2 separate regions of the Homo sapiens genome follow, and region 1 is linked to region 2. Evidence: fine-mapped QTL for protein levels in blood plasma. Region 2 holds a variant in brackets. A gene starts in the other region. All regions are shown on their reverse strands.

Region 1 (8,297 bases), not on the chromosome of region 2:
CCATGCCTTCAACACCTTGAAAGGTCTGGCCCCACAGATCTCCTCCTCTCCCTCTCCCCCTCACATTCTAGGCCCCAGCCACACTTCCTGTCTACTCTATGAACAAGCCAAATTCACTCTCTCCTCATGTTCCCTCTGCCTAAATGCACTCCCTTCAAAATACATTTCCCCCAGTTCCTCACATAGCCATGTTCTTTTCTTGGTTCAAATCTCAGCTCACCTGTCACCACCTCCAAAAGGCATTCCTGGAGACTAAAAATTGAAAGCATCTTATTTTGTTGTGCAATGATATATTGCCTGATTCTCCAATTAATATGTAAGCTCCACGAAAGTAGATATATCTATTGTTTTTTTTCTTGCCGTATTCCCTTTGCCTAGAACTCTGCTTGACACATAGTAGATGCTCAATAAATGCTCGTGGATCAATCAAATATTCCATTTTAGGTGAGAAATACATAATTTCATAGTCATCCCAAAAGGCAGAGGTGCTGACAGTGTTGTCCCCAGATCCAAACTGGAATCTGTATTCGTTCCCTATTTTTGATCTGACAAATTAACACTTAAGTGGCTTAAAACAACACAAACTTACTCTCTTAGAGTTCTGGAGGCTAGAAATTAGAAATCAATTCCACTGGACTAAATTCACGAGTTAGTCCCTTTTGGATGAATTCCCTGCTATGCCTTTTCTAGCTTCTGGGAGGCCCCTGCATTCCTTGGTTTATGGTTCTGTCCTAGAATCACTCTGACTTTTCATTTCATCCTTACACCTACTTCCTCTGACTCCTCCTGCATCACTTTTATAGGCACCACTGTGATTGCATCCAGCCTGCCCAGACAACCTCTCCATCTCAGGATCTGTAATCACACTGCACAGTCCCTTTTGCCATAAAAGGCAACACACACAGGTTTGGGGATTCAGAGGTGAACGTATTTGGGGGTCATTATTCAGCCTACCACAGATTTAACTCATGGATTTGTGTCATTCATTTCAGCCAGGCCTTCTCTTGAGAAAAGAAGGGCAGCATTCTTTTAGAAATTGAGGTCTCTAGAAACCACCTGGGTCTCTCCACTCCTCACCTGTCATGTAAGGCAAAGGCTATTTGTGCTTTCTCATACCTCCAGAGACAGCTCCCATGCCCCTCACCCTGAACCTGGCCTGTCCACAACCAGAGGAAGCAGGGAACAGCCTGCGGCTCTGGAACTCACCTGAGCCGAATTCCCCAACAGGAGCAGGTGTTAGTATTCAGGACACGGTGTAAGGCTCACCTGCCTCGGCCTTGAGGTCATGTGGCTGCCAGTTGAAGGAGGGTTACGGGGGGCTGCCTAGACTAGATCATGTGGCATAGAGCCCCTGACAGGCCACGAGCCAGAGAATGGGTGTGCCACCTCCAGGTCCCCCAGGCGTAACTGGAGCCTCAGGAGGTGTGTGCTCAGAGAGGTAGGTGGGACAGGTAATACCCCTCTTTTGGGGGATCTTCTCCCTTGGCTCATTTTTTGCCGCTTTCTGACACACACCAACCTCTCATTCTAAGTTTTTGTGTTCTGTTTGATCAATTTTTCAAAACTCTCCACCCTTTAGTTTCACTCTTTCCAAAACTACCTAAAACCACTTATCCTTCTAAGACCCTGTCATGGCTGAGCATGGAATGTTCTGTAACCCAAGGAATGCAGGTAAATCTGAGTGAGATTTGAGTTTTAGTCTGGATTTAACACTCGCTAGCTGTGTAATCTTGGGGGAGTTACTCCACCTCTCTGAACTTGTCTTCTTCCCTGTGACGTGGGTTGTTGTGTTTCATTGTTTGAGACAATGGAGGCAAAAGCACTGAGCACAGTGTCTGACCCAAGAGAAGTGCTCAGTGGGTGATTGTTCTCAGCATTATTAAGATCAAGTCTCCTACCCATGTTTGAAAGTTAAGAGAGAAAAGTGTTTCAGGCTGGTTGTGGTGGCTCATGTCTGTAATCCCAGCACTTTGGGAGGCCGAGGCAGGCAGATTACCTGAGGTCAGGAGTTCGAGACCAGCCTGGCCAATGTGTACAAAAAAAACACAAATTAGCCGGGCATGGTGGTATGCACCTGTAATCCCAGCTACTCGGGAGGCTGAGGATTCAAGGATTCAAGAGAATCACTTGAACTTGGGAGGTGGAGGTTGCAGTGAGCCAAGACTGAGCCACTGCACTCCAACCTGGGTGACAGAGCAAGACTCCATTAAAAAAAAAAAAAAGAAGAAGAAAAAGAAAGAAAGAAAGAAGAGTGTTTCAAGAGCGAAGTGCTGAGAGATTAAGGTTCGTTCAAAAACAAATATTTATTGTGCACTGTCCTAGAGGTAAGATAAAGAGAAAAATATTGATTGAATTTGGTAACATGGATGTCTTTGGTGAACTTGATGAGCAACAGAGCAGGAAATTATGGCCACTGACAACTTGTTATACTCACAGATCCCAAGAGAAGGGGACACACCACACTGGGCAGAGGGGCTGAAGGGAGAGGAAGAGCTGCTGGGAAGTACCAGGGTCGGTCAGGAAGCAAAGAGAGCAAGGGAAAAGGCAGGAAAGAGCCTTTATTGTAGTTTCTGCAGGAAGGAATGGGAGAGGCAAGGTAAGCAGATTTAGGATTGGCTTAGTTTGAATAATTTCAGAGACCTCTGGGCCATAGGAGTTGTCTCTAGTTGTCTGGTACCTGGTCCCTTGGGGTGATCTAAAGCAGCAAGTAGTGACCCTAAGTGTAAAAGCCCCAAAAAGGAGGCCAAGGGTTGGGGGTATGTGGTCTGGATTGATTGATTTGCAGTCGGAAAGGCACATTCACAGATAAGTCGTTTTTGATCTCTAGTAATTATTGAGCCCTGGGAGGGGCAGTCCCTCCATGATCAGTAAGGCCCCAAAATGTACAAGCACCAAATACAGAAACTAGAAAGCATGGTGATTACACTTATGAATAGATTCCAACCCAAACTCCCCATTTTCCTGCCCAAGTCTTTGTCAAGAAAACTCCAGAAGCCACCTGGGGTCACTGTCTTTAATCCTTTGAAGACACCCATAATAAGGTTTAGACAAGGCCTCATGAAAAAGGTATAGGATAAAAACGACTAGTTCAGAAAAAAAAAAGTAAATAAATGAAGAGATAACTTCCCTTTTCATCAAAGAATTGCAAAAATGAACAATAATGAGATCGTTTCCACTTATCCTTTTGGCAAAGATGAAAGCAAGTTACCAATGCTCAGAACTGGTGAGTAGTGTTGGTGGGATTGTAAACCAATTTATAATAATTCTCTGGGGTGCTGTTTGGGAAGAGGAGTCAATATTCCTACAGCTGTGCTACCTCTTTGACCCAGAATTTCCACTCCTTGGACATAATCCTGAGGAGATGACAACACCAGTGCCAGTGGTTACCCTACCACTGAGTGGGACAGGATGGAGAAATGTCCTGAAAAGAGCAATTCACAATAGCAAAGACTTGGAACCAACTCAAATGTCCATCAATGATAGACTGGATTAAGAAAATGTGGCACATATACACCGTGGAATACTATGCAGCCATAAAAAATATGAGTTCATGTCCTTTGTAGGGACATGGATGAAGATGGAAACCATCATTCTCAGCAAACTATCGCAAGGACAAAAAACCAAACACCGCATGTTCTCACTCACAGGTGGGAATTGAACAATGAGAGCACTTGGACACAGGAAGGGGAACATCACACCCAGGGGCCTATTGTGGGATGCGGGGAGCGGGGAGGGATAGCATTAGGAGTTATACCTAATGTAAATGACAAGTTAATGGGTGCAGCACATCAACATGGCACATGTATACATATGTAACAAACCTGCACGTTGTGCACTTGTACCCTAAAACTTAAAGTATAAAAAAAAAAAAGATCAATGCAGTGATCATGGTGATATTTTCCTGCTCAGCCCAAGTTCACACATATTTTATTTTTCTCAACATGATGACAGCCACTCTCACACTGACTTTTGGAATGTCATGTATGTTGAACTGGGTCTGAAGACATGGTTTTAACTCAGGCTCTGTCATTTTCTACCTCAGTGATTGCACAACAGCAAAGCAGAATTTTCACTACTTCCATGAATATAATCATTACTATATGACTTTACTTGCATCATCTCCTTTGGTTACTATTACTACTGTGGGAGATGGGTATTCTCATTTTATAGACAAGGAAATTGACCTCTGGACCTCAGGAAGGTTAAGAAATGAGCCCACTGCCACACAATAAACACCAGATAAAGGAGGCAGACTGACTCCAAAGTCAGTCTATTTAAGTGCAAATTTATTTCGCCTCCAAAGGGACCTCCCAGTCATCAGACCTGATTCTTTGTTGTACAGAGTGGGTCAGGTCCAGTGATGTCTGAACTACCTTCTGGTTCTGACTTTCAGCCATTCTCAGCTCCTCTCTTGCTTGTGTCTGGATTCTAAGGCTGATCTCATGAGAATGGGTGTTTCAGAAGGGTGCCCTCTCCAAGACAGGTGCACCTCCCATCTGGGGCAGTGAATATCCCTTTTGTCCTTATGCAGCCTGGCTTCAGATACTGGCTTCTGCCTGGCTCCTTGATCCCACCCTGCCCTTGTCAGTGACCAAGAAGAAGCCCAGCACCTTGGCACTGCTTTCCCAGTTAATTTCTAACTATGGAATCTCTTGCTGTTAGAAGGTGCGAAACAGTGACCTTGTATTTCCGGGCACAGGTGTGACCCCCCAATGTCAATCATTTGGGGTCTCTAGCTATTAGGAAAAAGAACAACAACAACCTCACAGCTTGGACAAGGCAAACATTATGCCAGGAGGAAAAAATATTCCACCCCCAAGAAAACAATATCAAAAAACAGAACTAGAGACTAATTGGAGGAGAGATTGCCAGCCTGGGGCAAATGTGTATATATAAGTATGAGGCACATCATGACCAGACTAACTCTACCTTTCTGGCTTCAGGTAAGGCTATCTGTAGCTGTCTTCTCCTAGCCCAGCTTCTCCCCATCCTATTTGAGGGAGGTAGGAGAGGAAATTAAGACCTTGGACACTGGGGTCAGACCTGGATTTGAGTCATTATTCTGCCAATTATTGGCTTCATGATCTTTAGTAAGTTAGTTTTCCTCTCTTTGATCCTCTCTGTCCTAGTAACAATGACTACTATTTTTTGACTTATTCCATGAATATTAGTTATGCACCTATTATGTGCCAGGTACCAGGGTTACAACAATGAACAACTTGCTATGTGCTGGGCCCTGCTCGACATATGTCATCTTAGTTAATCCCAGTGACAATATGCAGTGTTTTAGGTCGCATCTTATTAGCGGGTCATAAAATCATTCCTTTTGTGGGTTATATCCAGGGACTTCTTTTAATTAAATATAATAGAATATGTCAGTAAGCAATACAAATTTGAGGCAAGCAGTTAGCCTCTTTGTCCCCCTGTTTTCTCATCTGCAAACTAGGATAATACTTATCTCATAGGGTTGTGGTAAGAATTAAATCACTTAATGTAGTAAGGATATCAATTGTCTTATAAAATTTTATGTGTGTGTGCACATACATGCAGAAGCGACTGCACTAGATCATGACATAAAATGTTTTTCTTTCTTTCTGTCTTTTTTTTTTTGGGGGGGGGGGATGGACTCTCTGTCACCCAGGCAGGAGTGCAGTGGCACGATCTCAGCTCACTGCAACCTCTGCCTCCCAGGTTCAAGCAATCCTCCTGTCTCAGCCTCCCGAGTAGCTGGGATTACAGGCGCCCACCACCATGCCCGGCTAATTTTTGTATTTTTATTAGAGATGGGGTTTCACCATGCTGGCCAGGCTGGTCTCAAACTCCTGACCTTGTGATCCACCCCCTCAGTCTCCCAAAGTGTTGGGATTACAGGCATGAGCCACTGCACCTGGCAACATAAAATGTTTTTCTTTTAGTACATCATGGTCACGAAGATCTGGAAAACGTTGCTCTAGGACCCAATGCCTTTGAGCACATGAATGTCTTTGAACTGAGCCTGGCCCATCATAGATATTCAGTTTGTGAAAGCAACAATCTCCATTTCACAGACAAAAACGGAGACTTAGTAAACTGAAATACCCACATCACAGTGTTAGTGATCAGTAAAGCAGGGATTTGAACCTCAGGTGCAGGCTGCAGCTCCTACATACTTAACCAACATGCCACCCTATTTTGCTGCTATAAACACTGGGGTAATACTGGCATCCACCCTGGACTATTTTTCCAATTGGAAGAAATAGTAAGTGACCACTCCAGAAACATTTAAATGCATTGTGAAGGTTAATTACCTCTCAAGTTGCTCGTCTCAAGCCACTTCTTTACGATATGTGAGTTGCATGAAGGAGCAGACTGCCATGTTCATTGTTCTCCATGGTGACTAGCTCCCTGTTTGGCACAATGTAGCTACTCAATAGATGTTTGTTGAATGAATAAGTGATCCAGGCAAATTGAAAGTTTCCAGGCAGAGGATCAGTTAAAATCCAAAGCTGCCTTCAGTAAAGTGGTGAGTCCAGAACACTATTCCATCTGGCTACTTCCTGCTCCAAATGACTGAGTTCTTCAAAATGTGCAATGTGCTGAGAATTGGGGAGCCAAGACTGGGATGTTGGTGAGGTAAGGAGGGGGAGTACAAGGGGTAAAGTCCCAGCAAAACAAGGGCTGCAGTGTTATGCAATTTTTTAGTCCATATAAGTGACACCTCCTGGAGTTGTATACTATACAATCAAAGCACTCCTTCCAGCTGTGGGGAGGAGAGTTAGATCATGCATTTGTCCCATCCATCTCTGTTCACAGGACACCAGACATCAGAGACAGAGAGAAAAATTCAAAGGGCCAACCCGTCTTTCCTTTGGGCAGGTGCTATCTAGACCTGAAGTAGCGGGAAGAGCAGAAAGGATGGGGCAGCCATCTCTGACTTGGATGCTGATGGTGGTGGTGGCCTCTTGGTTCATCACAACTGCAGCCACTGACACCTCAGAAGCAAGTAAGTGAAAAGTGTGTGTGCGTTGTATATGTGTGTATGCACGTGTATGTGTGAATGTGTGGGGGAAGCAATGTAGCACCTGTCAGAGGTGATCTCAATCCTCCTATCGCACTTGAGACTTGCATTGTCTTCATTCTAAGTCCATTTCTTAGACTCAATATGCACAGGACTGACTTAGAAATTTTGCTAAAGTGCATATTCTGGTTCAGCAGATCTGCAGTAGGACCTGAGATGCTGAATTTTTAACAAGCTTCCAGGCGATGCTCATACTGGGGTCCCTGGAGTACACATTGAAAAGCAAGGGGCTAGAACATCTCTAAGGCCTGCAGGCCCTTTATTGGAAGTCAGAAACATACTCTATCACATAGGAGATTTGAACCCATGCAGGAGGATCCAAACACCTTCCCTTTCAACTTTAAGAGGTCATTCCATTGGGTTGAGATTTGCTGTCACCCCACTTTCATTTTCTCCCTGGAGTACGTTGGGGCACGATGAATACTATTGCGGTGTCCTGGTTAAAAGCACATATTTTGTGGTCCTGCCATCTGCGTTTTTATCCTGGTTCTACTTCTTACCAAAGGAGTAAGGGGCTTAATCCCTCTGAACCTCAGTCTCCTCATCTTTAAAATAAGGATACATAAAAAACTGACCTCACGAGGCCCTTGGGAAGTATTCAACAAGATAGTGAGTGAAAAGTGCACATCCTATTGCCTGGCATATAGTAATTGCTTAATAAACAACAGCTTCTTTTTTTTTTTAATGGTTATTTTTATTACGGAGGAACAAAGTACAACTGCCCAGCCAGGTGGAGTTGGAGGACTCCGCAGAGAGGAGGCGACACTGAGCAGGGTCCTGATGAAGATTTCACCAGCCAGGGAAGCAGAAAACATAAAATGTGCAAAGAAAGGGAGGGGCAACAGGTTCACCGTAAATCCTACCAAAGTATAGGAATTCTGCGCATTACTTTTCTGAATGTGGCTATTTTAAAAGAAGACAGCTTGAAAGCAATGCTTAACACAAAAAATGAATGGTGGAGCTGGGCGCGATTGCACGTGCCTGTGGTCCCAACTTTTTGGGAAGCTGAGGCAGGGTGCGGTGGTGGCTTGAACTCAGGGAGTAGAACGCTTGAACCCAGGAATTGGAGGCTATGGTGAGCTATGATCGCACTACTGCACTCCAGCCTGGGCGACAGAGCAAGACCCCTCTCCAAAAAAATAAATAAAGTTAAAAAATACAATGAAATAAACACAGAATGAACGGTGGAGGCTTGACATCATCAGAGGAGTTTTGTTTCTTTGCTTCTTTCCTTGTTTTG
Region 2 (8,345 bases):
TAGCCTACCAACCAAAAAAAGTCCAGGACAAGACAGATTCACAGCCAAATTCCACCAGAGGTACCAAGAGGACCTGGTACCATTCCTTTTGAAACTATTCCAAACAATAGAAAAAGAGGGACTCCTCCCTAACTCATTTTATGAGGCCAGCATCATCCTGATACCAAAGCCTGGCAGAGATACAACAAGAAAACAAAACTTCAGGCCAACATCCCTGATGAATATCGATGTGAAAATATTCAATAAAATATTGGCAAACTGAATCCAACAGCATGTCAAAAAGCTTATCCACCACGATCAAGTCAGCTTCATCCCTGGAATGCAAGGATGATTCAACATACAGAAATCAATACCCGTAATCCATCACATAAACAGAACCAATGACAAAAACCACGTGAGTATCTCAATAGATGCAGAAAAGGCCTTTGATAAAAGTCAATACCCCTTTATGCTAAAAACTAAAAACAATAAACTAGGTATCGATGGAATGCATGTCAAAAATCATAAGAGCTATTTATGACAAACCCACAGCCAATATCATACTGAATGGGCAAAAGCTGGAAGCATTCCCTTTGAAAACCAGCACAACACAAGGATGCCCTCTCTCACCATTCCTATTCAACATAGTATTGGAGGTTCTGGCCAGGCCAATCAGGCAAGAGAAAGAAATAAAGGTTATTCAAATAGGAAGAGAGGAAGTCAAATTGTCTCTGTTTGCAGATGACATGATTGTATATTTAGAAAACCCCATCATCTCAGCCCCAAAACTCCTTAAGCTGATAGCAACTTCAGCAAAGTCTCAGGATACAAAATCAGTATGCAAAAATCACAAGCATTCCTATACACCAATAACAGACAAAGAGAGCCAAATCATGAGTGAACTCCCATTCACAACTGCTACTAAGAGAATAAAATACCTAGGAATACAACTCACAAGGGATGTGAAGGACCTCTTCAAGGAGAACTACAAACCACTGCTCAGGGAAATAAGAGAGGACACAAACAAATGGAAGAACATTCCATGCTCATGGATAGGAAGAATCAATATCTTGAAAATGGCTATACTGCCCAAAGTAATTTAGAGATTCAATGCCATCCCCATCAGGCTACCATTGACTTTCTTCACAGAATTAGAAAAATCTACTTTAAACTTTATGTGGAACCAAAAAAGAGCCTGTGTAGCCAAGACAATCCTAACCAAAAGGAACAAAGCTGGAGGCATCACGCTACCTGACTTCAAACTATACTACAAGACTACAGTAACCAAAACAGCATGGTACTGGTATCAAAACAGACATATAGACCAATGGAACAGAACAGAGGCCTCAGAAATAACTCCACCCATCTACAACCATCTGATCTTTGACAAACCTGACAAAAACAAGCAATGGGGAAAGGATTTCCTATTTAATAAATGGTGTTGGGAAAATTGGATAGCCATATGCAGAAAACTGAAACTGGACCCCTTCCTTACACCTCATATAAAAATTAATTCAAGATGGATTAAAGACATACACCTAAAACGTAAAGCCATAAAAACCCTAGAAAGAAACCTAGGCAATACCATTCAGGACACAGATATGGGCAAAGACTTCGTGACTAAAACACCAAAAGCAATGGCAACAAAAGCCAAAACTGACAAATGGGATCTAATTAAACCAAAGAGCTTCTGCACAGCAAAAGAAACTCTCGTCAGAGTAAACAGGCAACCTACAGAATGGGAGAAAATTTTTGCAATCTATTCATCTGAGAAAGGGCTAATATCCAGAATCTACAAGGAACTTAAACAAATTTACAAGAAAAAAACCAACAACCCCATCAAAAAGTGAGTGAAGGATATGAACAGACAGTCTTCAAAATAAGACATTTATGTGGCCAACAAACGTATGAAAAAAAGCTCATCATCACTGGTCATTAGAGAAATGCAAATCAAAAAGCACAATGAGATACCATCTCATGCCAGTTAGAATGGCGATCATTAAAAAGTCAGGAAACAACAGTGCTGGAGAGGATGTGAAGAAATAAGAATGCTTTTACACTATTGGTGGGAGTGTAAATTAGTTCAACCATTGTGGAAGACAGTGTGGTGATTCCCCAAGGATCTAGAACTAGAAATACCATTTGACCCAGCAATCCAATTACTGGGTATATACCCAAAGGATTATAAATCATGCTACTATAAAGACACATGCACACATATGTTTATTGCGGCACTGTTCACAATAGCAAAGACTTGGAACCAACCCAAATTCCCCTCAATGATAGACTGGATAAAGAAAATGTGGCACATATATACCGTGGAATACTATGCAGCCATAAGAAAGGATGAGCTCATGTCCTTTGCAGGGCCATGGATGAAGCTGGAAACCATCATTCTCAGCAAACTAACACAAGAACAGAAAACCAAACACCGCATGTTCTCATAGGTGGAAATTGAACAATGAGAATACATGGACACAGGGAGGAGAACATCACACACTAGGGCCTGTCGGGGTGGGGGGCTAAGGGAGGGATAACATTAGGAGAAATACCTAATGTAAATGACAGGTTGGTGGGTGCAGGAAACCAGCATGGCACTTGTATACCTATGTAACAAACCTGCATATTCTGCACATGTATCCCAGAACTTAAAGTATAATTTTAAAAATGTAATAATGAACATTTTTTTTTTTTTGAGACGGAGTCTCACTCTGTTGCCCAGGCTGGAGTGCAGTGGTGCAATCTCAGCTCACTGCAAGCTCCGCCTCCCGGGTTCACACCATTCTCCTAATGAACAGATTGTTTTTAGAGTATTTGATTTTGAGTTTATTTTAATATTTTCTTAAAACAACAAAACAAACTTATTAGTTTGGGCTTTACATCAGTCAAGTAATAATGTCTGAATTGTCGTTTTAGAAAAGATAACCATCTAAATGTTTGGCATATTTTAGATAATTATATGATGAAGAACTCTATATTCATTTAAACAAAATTACAGTTTTAGTCAATATTTTAAAATTGTTTATGATTTTTAAAACTTAACTTTCCTCACTGTATATTTAACAACTTTGCCATAGCATTCAGGCATTACACTGTCATTGGTATTAGTCAAGTTCAGTGATTTTATTCATTTCAAATTGAACTTGGTGTTACAAGTTTTATTATAGCTATTACCTTCTTTTAGCTTTATAAGTTCTTCAGGTCATTATTTATATAAATTTTATCTGGCTTGTAAGGTAACACAAACCTCATAAAACATAAATTTAAAAAAATGTTTTTTTAATTTGTGAAACACTTATCTATTAGCTCCACATTAAAATTTCTTTTCTCCCAAACTTACACTACGTCTTGAATTATTCAGACAAGCAAAGATAAGTAAGGAGTCTAAGGAATGTGGTTTGGTTTTTACCTTTAAAACGTGGACAGTAATTTGGAAGTGCAGCTTAGTTCAACTCCTTTTCTAAATAAAATTCTGCTCCATTTGCAACTCTGAACACGTAAATTGAAGGGGTGGCTCCCGTGGCCAGTGCCTGACCTCTGTGCACACCTTGGTCTGGCGTGACCTCGCCCACACTGCACACTGCAGCCATATAAATCAGATTTTTGACATGTTATAAAATGCAAGTCACAGCTGCTGTTGTCTGCGGTATTCAAAAACTTTTGAAACACTGCATGTCCAACAAAATTTATTTTTTGTGTGAATGTAAGTTTTTATTGAGGGTAAGTCCTGTTTGTTTGGAAAAAAGAAACAGTATGAGTCAGTGCTTTTTAAAAATCAAATAGATTTAATGTTCTCCTTCCTGCCTGTTCTCGCTCGTGTGTGTTTCTCTCGATTGCTTGCTCGCTTTCTCTGCCTCTC[T/C]GCTTGTCTAAGAAAGAGCTGTTGGCTTTGAGAGAAGACCTTGGTATTACAACTGTGTTAGTAGATTGAGATTTCTGTTAGAGTCTTTCTGTTTAGGTCAGAAGTGTTCTTTATAGAACAGAACTGGGAGCTTGTAATCATAATGTAAGTATAAATGCTTCACCTCTTCAAATATATGTTTGAATTCTTTTGTTTCTGTTATAGCAGGAAACTTCATATGTAAGAATGTCTTATTAGCTACATTGCTTTGCCAGATGCCAGACATTTTTGTGTGTGTGTGGGGTTAACATTTTTTTTCTTTTTTAAATTTAATTTTAAGTTCCGGGATAGATGTGCAGGACGTGCAGGTTTGTTACATAGTGTGTTTATAACATGTGTGCCATGGTGGTTTGCCGCACCTATCAGCCCTGGACATTTTTTAGAAGAAAGGTTTGCATAGGTTGGTAAATGTAATGTGCAATCTATGGTAAACTTAAAAGTGCTTTTATAAAAGTTTTAAAGGTTCAGTTCATTCAGTTTTACTTACTGTCTCATCGTTCATGTAAAATTCCATGTAGTACTCTACTATGTTAACAATGTTTACGAAAAAAAGCCTTATTAGACTTTTCTGCAGAGAGATATTTAAGATTAAATTACATTATTTAGGCAATGATTTATATTAAGTACGTTATTGATCTTTTAGTTTTGTTCATATTTTTTACTGAAATGCAATAGGTATCTAAAAATGCTGTAACTAAAATTTGTCCCTAGTATATAAATGTCTTTATTATTTTATTTTCAACATTTAAGAATATTGCTATTAGAATATTTGACATTTTATAATGCCCTTAAAAGAAGACTATTTTCCCTGAATTATTACTTTTTAAACCGTTTTAGGTACTGTTTTTCAACCCTACTCTCTTGACCAAGAATGAAACTATTTACAAATTAAGATGCCAACAGGTAATTTCTTATATATTTATATGTTTTTGTCAATATGTGTCCATAGCAATAGAACAACAATCAAAAATGTATATTAACACAAGGCTGTATTATTCCCTTCCAACATCATTGGAAGAGATGTGAATATGAAATTAATATTTCAAATATGAAATATTTGGTTTTGAGAGACCTTCCTTTGTGACATAAAGCTATTTTATTTTAGATATATGTGTTTTATTGGTTTTATAACCTGATAAATTCTAGCTTGTCCTATATCTGAAATCAGCTCAAATAATAAGGAAATAGAAGTCAGAATAAAAGTAGATTCAGAAATAATGATTCAGGTTAGATGAGTTTTCTTTATTGATAAAATAAATGCCAAGTGTTGAGATATGTCTGACTATAATCCAATTAAAACAAGGACACTAATCTTAGCTGTGATAAAGTTACATTCCACCCTCAGTGGAAAACCATATATGATGACGCCTTTGATGCTGATGTAATGTTAATTTTATTTTTTAGCCAAATTATTCCTGAAAAATTTTATAATCTTGTTGAAAGTTGTTTGATTACGAAGAAGCATGGCATTGTGTAAAAAAGAAAAAAATCTAAAAGCATTCATTTTGGTTGATTTTACTTTCTTTTTCACCAGTTCTCTGTAGTTCTGATTTCGTCTTTACATTTTTATACTCTTAGGGCTATAATGTGATGCTGAAACAGGATTTTCTCAATTCTAAAGTAGAACAAAAGTTTTAAAATTTGAAATTCTGATTGTGGAGATATCTGACTCATAGCAATTATATCTTAGCAAGTATTGATATCTTAGTGGCACATAAATGCTAGATAATTTTTAAAATTAATATACTAATTTTAATGTCAAATTGGAGTCCCAGTGGGAGAGTAATGCCATTTTCTTATTCTGATTAGATGATTCTGGGTCATTTCCTAGACAGAAACAATTAGGAACTAACAATGTACAAGTTTAAAGCAATGTAATTTCCCCTTTAAGGCTGGAAGATAAGATATTCACCAATTTTCTCTTCATAAATTACTAGTATAATGACTCAATGAATCCTTCTGTTATTCTAATTTTTTCTATACAATGGCTTTGGTGGACAGGGATTTTTTATAAAAGGTCTTGGGGGTGAGGCTAGAAGGAAGGAGAGGTACCAAGGGAGAAAGGGAAGGCAGAGAGAGAAAGATAGATAAAGGAAAGGTCATAAAGAAGGAAGATGAGGCTGAGGAAAGAGGAAAGAGAGAAAAGAAGTCAGAGAGAAGTAGAGGTTTATTTTCTTAATATTCTGAAAGATTTGGCTGTATATCAAGCTATGACTTAGCTTTTTAATTTTTCTTTGCAACTTTAGATATGCCTTATGGTTAGTAACTGTTACCTAAAACACTTTGCAAATCAACACCTTATAAGTTTATTTTTGGTTTCTGACATTTAGATTGTCATATAGGAACATTTAAAGTTAACTTTGGAAATAAAAAGTTAATTATCTAAATCCTTTACCAGCTGCAATTTCAGATATTAATGTATTTGAGACCTAATAGGGAAAACAAGAATTTAAATAAATTCTTGGGACAGGGAAATGCTAGGTAATACTGCCAAATCTCTGTAGTAAGTGAGAAAGGCCCTGTTTGTTCTAAGATGCTGATCACCTCCTTTTAATCTAACTAATATAGATATTCCTTATTTCTGTTATATAATGTCTAAACCCATTATAGTTAATGGCCATATCTTTAGGACATAATTTTTCTCTCAAAGACATAGAAGTCCCAGTCTGTCAAATAAGGAATAGAATTAAATCTTTCATTTTGAGAAAAAAAATTCTTCATTCTGATTTTCAGAATTGCTACTTCAGTTTAAGATAGTTATTCCTATTCCTTGTTGCATTAGGAAAACTTTAATTTGCTTTTCTCTATTTTATATATGTATGTGTTCTAGATCACGAAGAGCCCTGTGGTCCCAGTCACAAGTCGTTTTGCCTGAATGGGGGGCTTTGTTATGTGATACCTACTATTCCCAGCCCATTTTGTAGGTGAGTGAAATGGACTAGGGGGAGATGTTAACTTTATTTTTTATTGTCTACTAACTTCTTTGAGAAGTGATAAAAAGTAAACAAAAAGTGTAAGATGAAAAGATGTGAGGCATATTCATATTTATTTAGGGAAAATTATCCTTTTAAAACAAAACAAAAACAAAATAAAATAGCACATAAAAATCTCACTAATCAAGGTGTTTATTCTGAAAATTGCTAATGGTAGTTCCTAGCCTAGACACATTTTTAAAAAATAATCCCTTTTAGTGAACTCTTTGATTTTAGCAATTTAAGGAAGGCAGTCTATGCTTAATATTACTGGCAAAACAGCTAGGGAATTTGCTAATCAAAAAAACCTAATATGATATATTTTATTTTGAGTTTTTAGTACATAAACACATGATAACTGAGTTGGCACCAAAACTTACACTTTATATGTTAAAAAGCAAAAGAAGGGTTAAGTTTTTCTAATGGTGGTAGCAAATAAAAAAGAAGGGTATCTTAGCCACTATTGTTTTAAAATAATATAATTCACTGTGGGAGTATAGATACAGCCAGTGACCCATAAAAAACTTCAAAATAGTACTTCTGTAGCCTGATTCCTATGAGTTTGGTTGAATAGGATTTAAATGTATATAATAAACGTCTTTTAGTATATGAGTTAACATCATAGTACTGCCCTATACTGTGGAGCTAACACCCAAGATCTAAAGATATTTTGTAACACATGTGAATTACTCTTTCTTGTTCTTTAACTGAAATGAGAAGTATAGAATCTAGATTTAAGATCTAGCTACATAAAAGGATAGAAAAGTAAAATCCATAGGAAAAGTTAAAGATACTGGGATGTAGTATGGAGGAGAGGAGGCAGAGAGAAATAACCTCACAATTATCTCAAGAAGTTTTTAGGGCTTCTCATATGGGGAATAGTGCCCAGGTGTTTTTCTTCTCTAGTGAATATGAAAAGGGAAGGGAATGGAGGAACAAATTAACAATTACTTAACACTCATGATGTGCCTCAGCAGTATACTCTTCTTTTTTAATCTATTTACTGAGATATAATTTATGTATGATAAACTGCATTCATTTAAAGTGCAAAATGGATTAATTTTGACAAGTGTTTGTACCTGTGAAATCACCACCACCATCACATCTAGATATAGAACATTTCCATAGATAATCCCCCCAAATTTTGTTGCTGACTGTGCTCAACACTTAATTCTCACAAACACCTTAGAGAAAGGAGGCAGGGGAGACCTTAGAAAATAATTTTTTAAAAAAGGGGAAAATGAGAAATTAAGTGACATGCCAAAGGTCATATAGCTGGGAAGAAGAAAGGTGTCACCTTTGAATACAACTCACAAGTTTCACTTAACTTTATAATATATTCATACTGGATTCTTTCTAAGGTGATATGGCACGTAGAATGTTTAAAATAAAACAAGAATGCTTATCAGAAGAAGTACATTTAGGTTGGGCGCGGTGGCTCACACCTGTAATCCCAGCACTTTGGGAGGCCAAGGTGGGCGGATCACAGGGTCAGG

Which allele goes with the higher level. Positions count from the first base shown, and alleles are read on the strand shown. Strength reflects both the effect of a copy and how common the allele is.
With allele C in place of T in region 2, the plasma level of the protein whose gene starts at base 4,917 in region 1 is lower (weak association).

Evidence for each region. A credible set is the group of variants that fine-mapping cannot tell apart. PIP is the posterior inclusion probability: the model's chance that the variant is causal. Protein levels are from antibody-based Olink assays in UK Biobank. Linkage for the fine-mapping came from a reference panel and not from the study's own genotypes, which makes the PIPs less certain.
Region 1: it holds the start of UMOD, and the variant in region 2 is the best candidate, but not a certain one, in a credible set for the plasma level of the UMOD protein (UK Biobank, PIP 0.59).

Annotation. Positions count from the first base shown.
Region 1 is chr16:20,349,335-20,357,631 of GRCh38, reverse strand. UMOD (uromodulin) reads left to right here and starts at 4,917. Exons shown (of 11, transcript NM_003361.4): 1 at 4,917-4,943; 2 at 6,793-6,982. The coding sequence starts at 6,895.
Region 2 is chr15:76,007,656-76,016,000 of GRCh38, reverse strand. It overlaps NRG4 (neuregulin 4), which reads left to right and starts at 3,577. Exons shown (of 6, transcript NM_138573.4): 1 at 3,577-3,682; 2 at 4,715-4,780; 3 at 6,708-6,801. The coding sequence starts at 4,771. The variant T/C (reference allele first, on the strand shown) is at 3,839.